2 linked regions of the Homo sapiens genome follow. The protein of the gene in region 2 purifies or fractionates together with the protein of the main gene of each other region. This does not show direct contact. Each region holds a gene or a part of one and is shown on either strand. Other genes may lie near its edges. The genes, in order: ACACB and BCDIN3D.

The links.
Region 1: the proteins of BCDIN3D (region 2) and ACACB purify together in Homo sapiens (affinity purification with mass spectrometry; one large-scale study listed by BioGRID and IntAct). This does not show direct contact.

What each region holds. Positions count from the first base shown.
Region 1 is NC_000012.12:109,249,048-109,252,861, reverse strand, and holds part of ACACB (acetyl-CoA carboxylase 2), read right to left. Parts: intron 2,879-3,814; coding exon 2,758-2,878; intron 817-2,757; coding exon 706-816; coding exon of another isoform or gene 541-705; exon of another isoform or gene 284-540; intron 1-283. UniProt on the Homo sapiens protein: Mitochondrial enzyme that catalyzes the carboxylation of acetyl-CoA to malonyl-CoA and plays a central role in fatty acid metabolism.
Region 2 is NC_000012.12:49,840,094-49,844,363, reverse strand, and holds the start of BCDIN3D (RNA 5'-monophosphate methyltransferase), read left to right. Parts: upstream 1-1,257; 5' UTR 1,258-1,276; coding exon 1,277-1,510; intron 1,511-3,209; exon of another isoform or gene 3,210-4,270. UniProt on the Homo sapiens protein: O-methyltransferase that specifically monomethylates 5'-monophosphate of cytoplasmic histidyl tRNA (tRNA(His)), acting as a capping enzyme by protecting tRNA(His) from cleavage by DICER1.

The sequences.
Region 1 (3,814 bases), about 59 Mb from region 2:
TTATATCAGAATCTTCGAGGAATTAGTTTTTGTGTTTTGTTTGTTTTTTAGTTTCTAGATAATTCCAATATGCAGGCCAATTTGAGAACTGGTGATGCAGCTGACTTCTACCTTGACCATCTCAAAAGCAAAACCCTAGCTAGTGTTTCTGATTCAGCAGGTCTGCAGCAGGGCTTGAGGATGTGCATTTCTGACAAGTTCCCATCTGATGCTGATGCTGTTGGTTCAAGAACCAGGCTTTGAGACTTTGGCTGAGATTTGAGCAGACATTAAGTATAGAGACTTTTCAACAAGGAAAATGTTTTAATACAGTGAAAAAAGTAGAATACAAAACTGCATATTCACTATAAATTAACCACATAAAGACAGAAGATGAGAGGGAACTATACCAGAATGATAGAAGCTGCAAAATTACTTTTTTGGGGGGTTCCTTTTCTAATTTTCTGCAATGTGTAATGGCACTTCAATAATTTGTTTTAAAATGTCAGTAATACAGGGAGTTAGATCGACCAGAATTGCCTAAAACTAATTTTTTTTTTCTCATAAGGACCCAGATAGCTGCAAATTGGAAAAAAAGAGCTCTTGTATCAGTAGGAATGAAACTGGCTTCATATTGAGAAAAATCCCCCACCAGAGACCAATGGGAATGTTAAAATGACTCCTGGCCCCCAAGGATCCACTCTGCACAGGCCCCTTTTTGGTCACCTTGTTGAGAGCACTTGCTCCTGTGAGGATGATGTGGGAATTCTCCACCTGGATCACTCGCTGGCCCAGCCTCACCAAGTAGGCCCCAATCCCAATGGCTCGGCAGGTCACCTGTGGAGAGAGGACCCCCTCTGAATTCTGGAGAGTGGCGAGGGACCCACCCCCCACAGCAGGGAAGAGTCCAGGAACCTGCTGGGACCAAATGGAAGTTATGTTTTGACCAATGGCAACCCGATTTGGAGCCAAACCACAGTAGAGGCAAAAGCCTATTCTTCAGGCCACTTTATTGAGCTTGGATTCCTATCTGGAAATAACATGGTTAACAAAGATTGCTGTAAAGACAAGCAGCAGACAGTGAATGTTTCAGATTTTAAGAGGCTTGTGTGCAGCTCTTCTGAGCCTGGGCATTCATGGGCCATTGCAGCCTCTTAACAACCAAAAGGACACCTAGGAGTGCATGTAAAAACTGGTGAAATTCAAAATAAGGTCTGTACTGAGTTAACAATATTGTGCCAATGTCAGTTTCCTGGTTTCGATAATGTACTACGGTTATGTAAGTACCATAGGGGAAGCTGGGTGAAGGGTACTTGGAAATTCTCTGTAGTATCTTATAACTTACGGTGGGTCCTAGATGACTTCAAAATAAAAAGACTATACATATAATCTAGAAAACAAGCCCAAGGAAGATGCTTATGACCAACATTTTCCACTTGGAAACTGAAGATTCAACATTGCATGTACAAATAAGGCCTTCCAAGGCAGTTTATCATTAAAGAGTACTATTATTCCTGCTGCTGCTGCTGTTAGAGTAGGTAGTTAAGCAGACATGAGCAGGGCAGGAGAGGAAGGCAACCATCAGGTGATAGTTAGGCAGTTGCTAAAGTGTCTCTCTAAAATTAATATTGGTCACAGCTGGCTCCAGGGAAAGGCAATCTCCTGATAGATAGAAAACACCTGAAGCTAGTGATAAGCAGCTTCCCCATAAGATCTCAGGAGCTGGGTGGGTGGGCTCAAGCATGCATGCTAAGAGGTAAGATGGCAGAGTTTATCTGGTACCGTGCCCTTCTTCTAGGAACACTCGACTGGTAAAGGAGGAAAGCCTCAAGTGAGCATGCACACAACTTCAGTAAACACACTGTTCATGCGGCCCCTCCTAAGTGCTGGCAGACCACGTGCATGCAGACAGCCCACCCCAAGGGAAGAATCAGGGGAGAAGAAACACAAACCCTGGAATCATGCCAATGCATAAAACCTCAAAAGGGTTGGATGAGGCACTTGGATCTCTCAGGTTGCCTTGTTTGGCCCTCTTCCAAGTGTACTTCATTTCATTCTTGCTTTAAAACTTTTTAATAAACTTTCACTCCTGCTGAGAGACTTGCCTCGGTCTCTCACTCTGCCTTAGACCCATACAGATTCACCACCACAAACACTACTACCACTACTACTACTACCACCACCACTACTACCACCACTGCTAGTACTAGAATTACTACTAGTACTACTACTACTACTACAGTAGTACTACTACTAGAAACAGAAAACATTTTTGGAAAGGCCATGGGGATGGGATGGGGACTACTCCTTATATGCCAGTTAAAGTCAGAGAAAAGTTCTTCTAAACATTCAGTACCTTGAAAATAAGATGAGATTGGACCCTGATTCAAACAAACCACTAGAAAAGGGTATTTTGAGATAACTGTTAAACCACACTGGGTTTCAATGATATTGCTGATTCTGTTGGGTGTAATATTAGTATTTCAGTTATGTTTTTAAAAACCGGGGGAAGAGGGTGAGAGTCATTATCTGTTAAAGATCTACCCTTACGTATTTATGGATGAAAAGACATGATGGGGGCTGGCTTTAAAATACTCTAAAACAGGTGCAGGGGATGGGGGTGAGATTGAGGAAATATCAGTGGGCTGGCATGTGGTAACTGTAGGAGGTATGTGACGGGCACATGGGGCTTATTATTGATTCTCTCTAATTTTGTGACAATTTTAAAGTTTCTATAATGGAAAGTTGAAAAGTAAGAGAAAATAGAAGAAGACTCACCAAGCTAATGGTGACGATCTCTTCGTAAGCCAGAGAGGACTCCCCAGCAATCATGCCTGAGCCCCTCAGATTCTCCACGCCCAAGCCATCATCCTTCCCGATGATATCCGTGATCATGTATCTTCAAAAGCAAGCACAGGTTAAAGGCTGGGCTCTAGCCCCAAAAAATCCAAGGTGGATGCATTTCCCAAGAAGGGACTGACTGGGCAGCAAGGTGAGAGATTGGAAGCAGACAAAGCATCCAGAGGCAAAATGAAATTGGCATCTAGAACCCTCAAAATGAGTGCTAAGATTTCTAAAAGGGCAAGTGCAGCATCAACAATCATCACCCTGCTCTGTAATCCCAGCAGTTTGGGAGGACGAGGCGGGCAGATTACTTGAGGTCAGGAGTTTGAGACCAGCCTGGCCAATATGGCGAAACCCCATCTCTACTAAAAATACAAAAGTTAGCTGGGCGTGGTGGTGCACGCCTGTAATCCCAGCTACTTGGGAAGCTGAGGCAGAAGAATCGCTTGAACCTGGGAAGTGGAGGTTGCAGTGAGCCAAGATTACACCACTGCACTCCAGCCTGGGTGACAGAGCGGGATTCTGTCTCAAATAAATAAATAAATCATCACACTGCTCCCATCTGTGAAAGGAAAATAAAAACTAGGACCACGATTCACAATGCCAAAAGGAACAATTTAAGCTGAAGCTGAGTTGTGCAAGCTGCCTTTCCTTTTGTTTCTTTAGTAAGCAGATAGATACAGATAAAAGCTGAAATATCTCCACAGGTAGTTCCTCTATGTCCACCTTATCTTATAGAAAGTGCTGACTTACTGAGCGCAGGAAGAATACATAACTGACTTCCCCTGCCTGCGCCTTTTCTCCTGCAACATGTGATTACCAGAACTTCCCTCTTTCCCCTCCAGCCTGCTTTTCTCCTTTAAATACTGAAGCCCTCCAAATCATCTTTGAAGAAAGGTACACGCCACAGACGGTTTCTATGATTCCGTGTTCTTTGCTTCTGGATGTGTCCCTAACCTTGGCAAAATAAACTTCTCAATTGATTGAGACC
Region 2 (4,270 bases):
AGCGCTTATTTTAACTCCTGATGGTACTGTTTGCAGGAGTCATGCTCCAGTGCCTTATAAGAAGTTTACCGAACTGCCAGCCTCATGGAGCAGGATACCCCTTTAAGATGGGTGGGCCAGGTGCAGGGGTGGGGTTGGGGGTCCTGCACAACTCTGCTGATGCTTGGTTGACCCTGACGGATATTCTGGGCCATCCTGGCTTTTGACTGGAACCTGCTACCTAGGTTGACCCTTCAGTTCCTCTCCTTATCAGCTCTGTTATTTCCAATCTCTGAGTCACATCTTGCCCAACTCCATTCCACTATGTCTGCTTCAGTTGGCATCCTTTCTCCCTTCCATTTAAAGTTTCCCCAAACAGATCTGGCCTTATTGTATTCTCTATTGAGTTTTCATTCAACAACATTTGTTGAGCATCTTTGTGCCAGGCCCATGTTAAGTATAGGAGACTCAAGGCTGAGAATAACACACCGTTGCAAGCACATCCTCTGGATCCAAACTCCCTGGGTTCGAATCCTAGTACCATCATTTCTAACTGTGGGATCTTGGACAAGTTACTTTGTTTTACTCCAGTGTCCTCATCTATATAAAAAGAATAATAATACGGTCATTTTCTCACGGGGTGAGAGGATTGACTAAGGAGCTTACAAGGGTGTCTGGTGCCTGGTAAGCACTCTTTAAGTGCTGGCTCTTAAGGCACGGTCCTTGCCTCTCAAGGAGCTCATGGTCTACAGTTGCCCCTGGGGGACAGGGCTGAGTCGGCTGGCTTCGCAAGTGACCTGCACCTCCTGGCTACCCTTTCCTGAACCGGGTGGAAGTTTTTGAGTCACAGATTCAATGTATGACCCCAGACAAGTAAGTTCTCTCGGTCTCACTTTTTGCATTTATAAAGAAAGGAAATTGGACTAAAATTGATTTCCAAGATCCCAACAAACTAGTATACTTGTTCTGGGTCAAGTAGCCCAAGTTTCAAACTATGTCAGCTTGGCCAAGACACTTAGCCCTCAGAGTTTGTTTCATCCCTGTAAAACGTGGATGATATTGCTAATCCCCTCCCAGTGTTGTGATGAGGGTTCAATAATACAAGGCAAGCCCCAGGCGCTCGCCGGCTCCAGGTATACAGCGAGAGGAAATCAGGACAGCTTTTCTGATTCACCGCAGAATTCTAGCCACCCGCCCTAGCCGTTCGACGCACGCGCGCTGGCACCGCCACCGCCCACGCCGACAGCAGGTTCCCGGCTTCCGGTTCCGCCACGGCCCAGAGGCTGTGTTGAGGCTAATGGCGGTGCCCACGGAACTGGATGGAGGGAGTGTTAAGGAGACCGCAGCGGAAGAGGAATCGCGAGTTCTGGCACCTGGCGCCGCCCCGTTCGGAAATTTTCCTCATTATTCTCGCTTCCACCCTCCGGAGCAACGGCTCCGCCTCCTGCCCCCGGAGCTGCTTCGACAGCTCTTTCCTGAGAGTCCCGAGAACGGGCCGATTCTGGGGCTCGACGTGGGGTGTAACTCCGGGGTGAGTGACAGGGGAGGGATTGGAGCATCCGGAGCCAAGTGGTTGGCTGCCTACACATCCACTGTGGTTCTGGCCTGGGCTAACACCCATCGAAACTTTCCCAAAACGAGTATAAAGCGTGGCTTTGACTGAGCCAGTGCCGCTGCTGCCTGCCCGCCAGGGTTCCACCATCTGTCTTAGGAATCTCTCTTGGAGAGGAGTCCTTGTCGACTACGTTCCCACTTTTCTTTCAGGGCCAGACCCCAGGTGGGAACGGTCCTTGTATCTAGGGTGGCCTCTGTCCAGCGTGCCTGGCGCTTTGGCTGGGGAGAGGGGGCTTCCAGAGACACACGTTTGGGAACATGGGGTTAGGTTTGGTTTACTGGGAGAGAAGAGCCAAGGGTGACAGAATCATGCCTGATATTGAGACTCATGTGTGCTATACAGTGCAGGACAGACCCTGGGACCTGCATGTTTATTTCAAAAAAAGTGAGTAGGCCGGGCGCGCTGGCTCACGCCTGTAATCCCAGCACTTTCGGAGGCCGAGGCGGGTGGATCACAAGGTCACGAGATCGAGACCATCCTGGCTAACACGGTGAAACCCCGTCTCTACTAAAAATACAAAAAATTAGCCGGTCGTGGTGGCGGGCGCCTGTAGTCCAGCTACTCCGGAGGCTGAGGCAGGAGAATGGCGTGAACCCGGGAGGCGGAGCTTGCAGTGAGCCGAGCTAGTGCCACTGCACTCCAGCCTGGGCGACAGAGCGAGACTCCGTCTCAAAAACAAAACAAAACAGTGAGTTGACAGAGTACAGTGGAGAGGATCGAGAAGCAAATAAAGCATTTTGCCCAAGGGAATGGAGAAGGGCGGCACTGCCACTCTTCTTGCTGCAAACTATTCTTAGGCATATGATTATAATCAAACCACATGCAAAATAAGGAAATGTCTCTCCCACACCTATTTGTAGCCACTGGGATATTCTACACTAGCAGGCAGTCTGAACTTACCACGGCAAATGCTTCAAAAGTTAGTACCCTCTCTGCGCTCCCTCCATCACTCCAGTCCAGCATCTGGAGGGCGGGGGACAATTCTGTTACGTTGCTGTCCTTTTACAGAAGAGACTTTGGGGGACGACTTCAGACCTTGTGGGACTCAGATGATAGTAGGAAGGGGACATTTGGATACAGTCTCAAAGACTGGAATGAGGAGATGGGTTGATGTCCTGTGTCCCCTGCAAAATTTCTCCGCTGTGATGATACGGGAAGTCAGAGGGTAAAAACAATGGAAAAGAGAGACTGAGGTTAAGGCTTGGGATTTCACGAAAGGCATTAGGAAACCACCAGAGATTTTAAAGTTGAGAGTAGTATACACATGAGAGGTAAAGACATAGTTGGCAGCTAACTAGGGTAGTGGTTCCCAAACCTGGCTGTACGTTTATGGAGCTTTCTGTTTTGCAGTTTTTAAAAAATGCTTTTTCTTGTGGATCTTTGTAGTCAGGAAAGGGAAAAAAAATGCTTGCGCTTGATAAAACAAAAAAATTCAAACTACAAAGGGGTATATACTAAAAAGTAAGTCTCTACTCCCAACCCTAAATCCTCCTTTTCCCCCACACAGTGGCACTACTGTTTATAATTTCTTAGGTATCAGTCTTGTGTGTATACCAGCATTTACGTACATATAAGTACCCCCCTTTTAGTTTTACAAATGGTAACACACTATTAGTAGCTTTTAATTCTGAGATTATTTATATCACCACATTCTTTTTTTAGCAGCTTCCTAATGTTTCATTGGATAGATGTACCATAATTTATGGGTGCTTTTTTTTTTCAATTTTAAAAACTCCTTTCCCAGCCTGGGCAACATGGCAAAACCCCATCTCTAAAAAAAATTAGCCAGGTGTGGTGGTGGGCATCTGTAGTCCCAGCTACTTAGAGAGCTGAGGGAGGAGGATCGCTTGAACCCAGGAGGTCGAGGCTGCAGTGAGCCTTGATTGTGCCACATACCCCAGCCTGGGTGACGAAGTGAGACCCTGTCTCAAATAAAACAACAACAAAAAACCCAAAAAACTGCTGGGTGCAGTGGCTGACGCTGTAATCCCAGCATTTTCAGAGACTGACGCTGGTGGATTGCTTGAGCTCGGGAGTTTGAGATCAGCCTGGGCAACATGGCAAAATCTCATCCCTACCAAAAATACAAAAATTAGCTGGGCATGGTGGTGTGCACCTGTGGTTCCAGCTACTCATAAGGCTGAAGTAGGAGGATCTCTGGAGCCTGGGAAGTCAAGGTTGCAGTGATCACACCACTGTACTCCAGCCTGGGAAACAGAGTAAGATCCTGTCTCAAAAATAAATAAATAAATAAATAATAAACATTTTCAGCACCCCACAACTTCCCCTATATGCCTTTTCCTGTTCATAAACCTCTATCTCTACCCAGAGGTAACAACTAGCCTTCTGTTGTTTCCTTGCTTTTCTTTATAGTGTACTGTTTTTCTTCCCTGAATGATGTACTTTAATTTCACCCATTTTTGAGCTTCATGTAAATGGATGCTTTTCATATATTTTCTGTTATGGCTTGCTTTTTTTCTCAACATTATGTATTTGTGAGAATCATCCATGTTGTGCACCAAGCTGGGTGCCTTCATTTTTTAACTGCTATTTAGTATTCTATCTTCATGATTATACCACATTTATTTGTCCATGCCACTATCACTGGACATCTGGGTGGTTTCCATTGTGCATTTTCTTCACCTGCAGAAAAGGCATAAATAAATATTTTCCTCA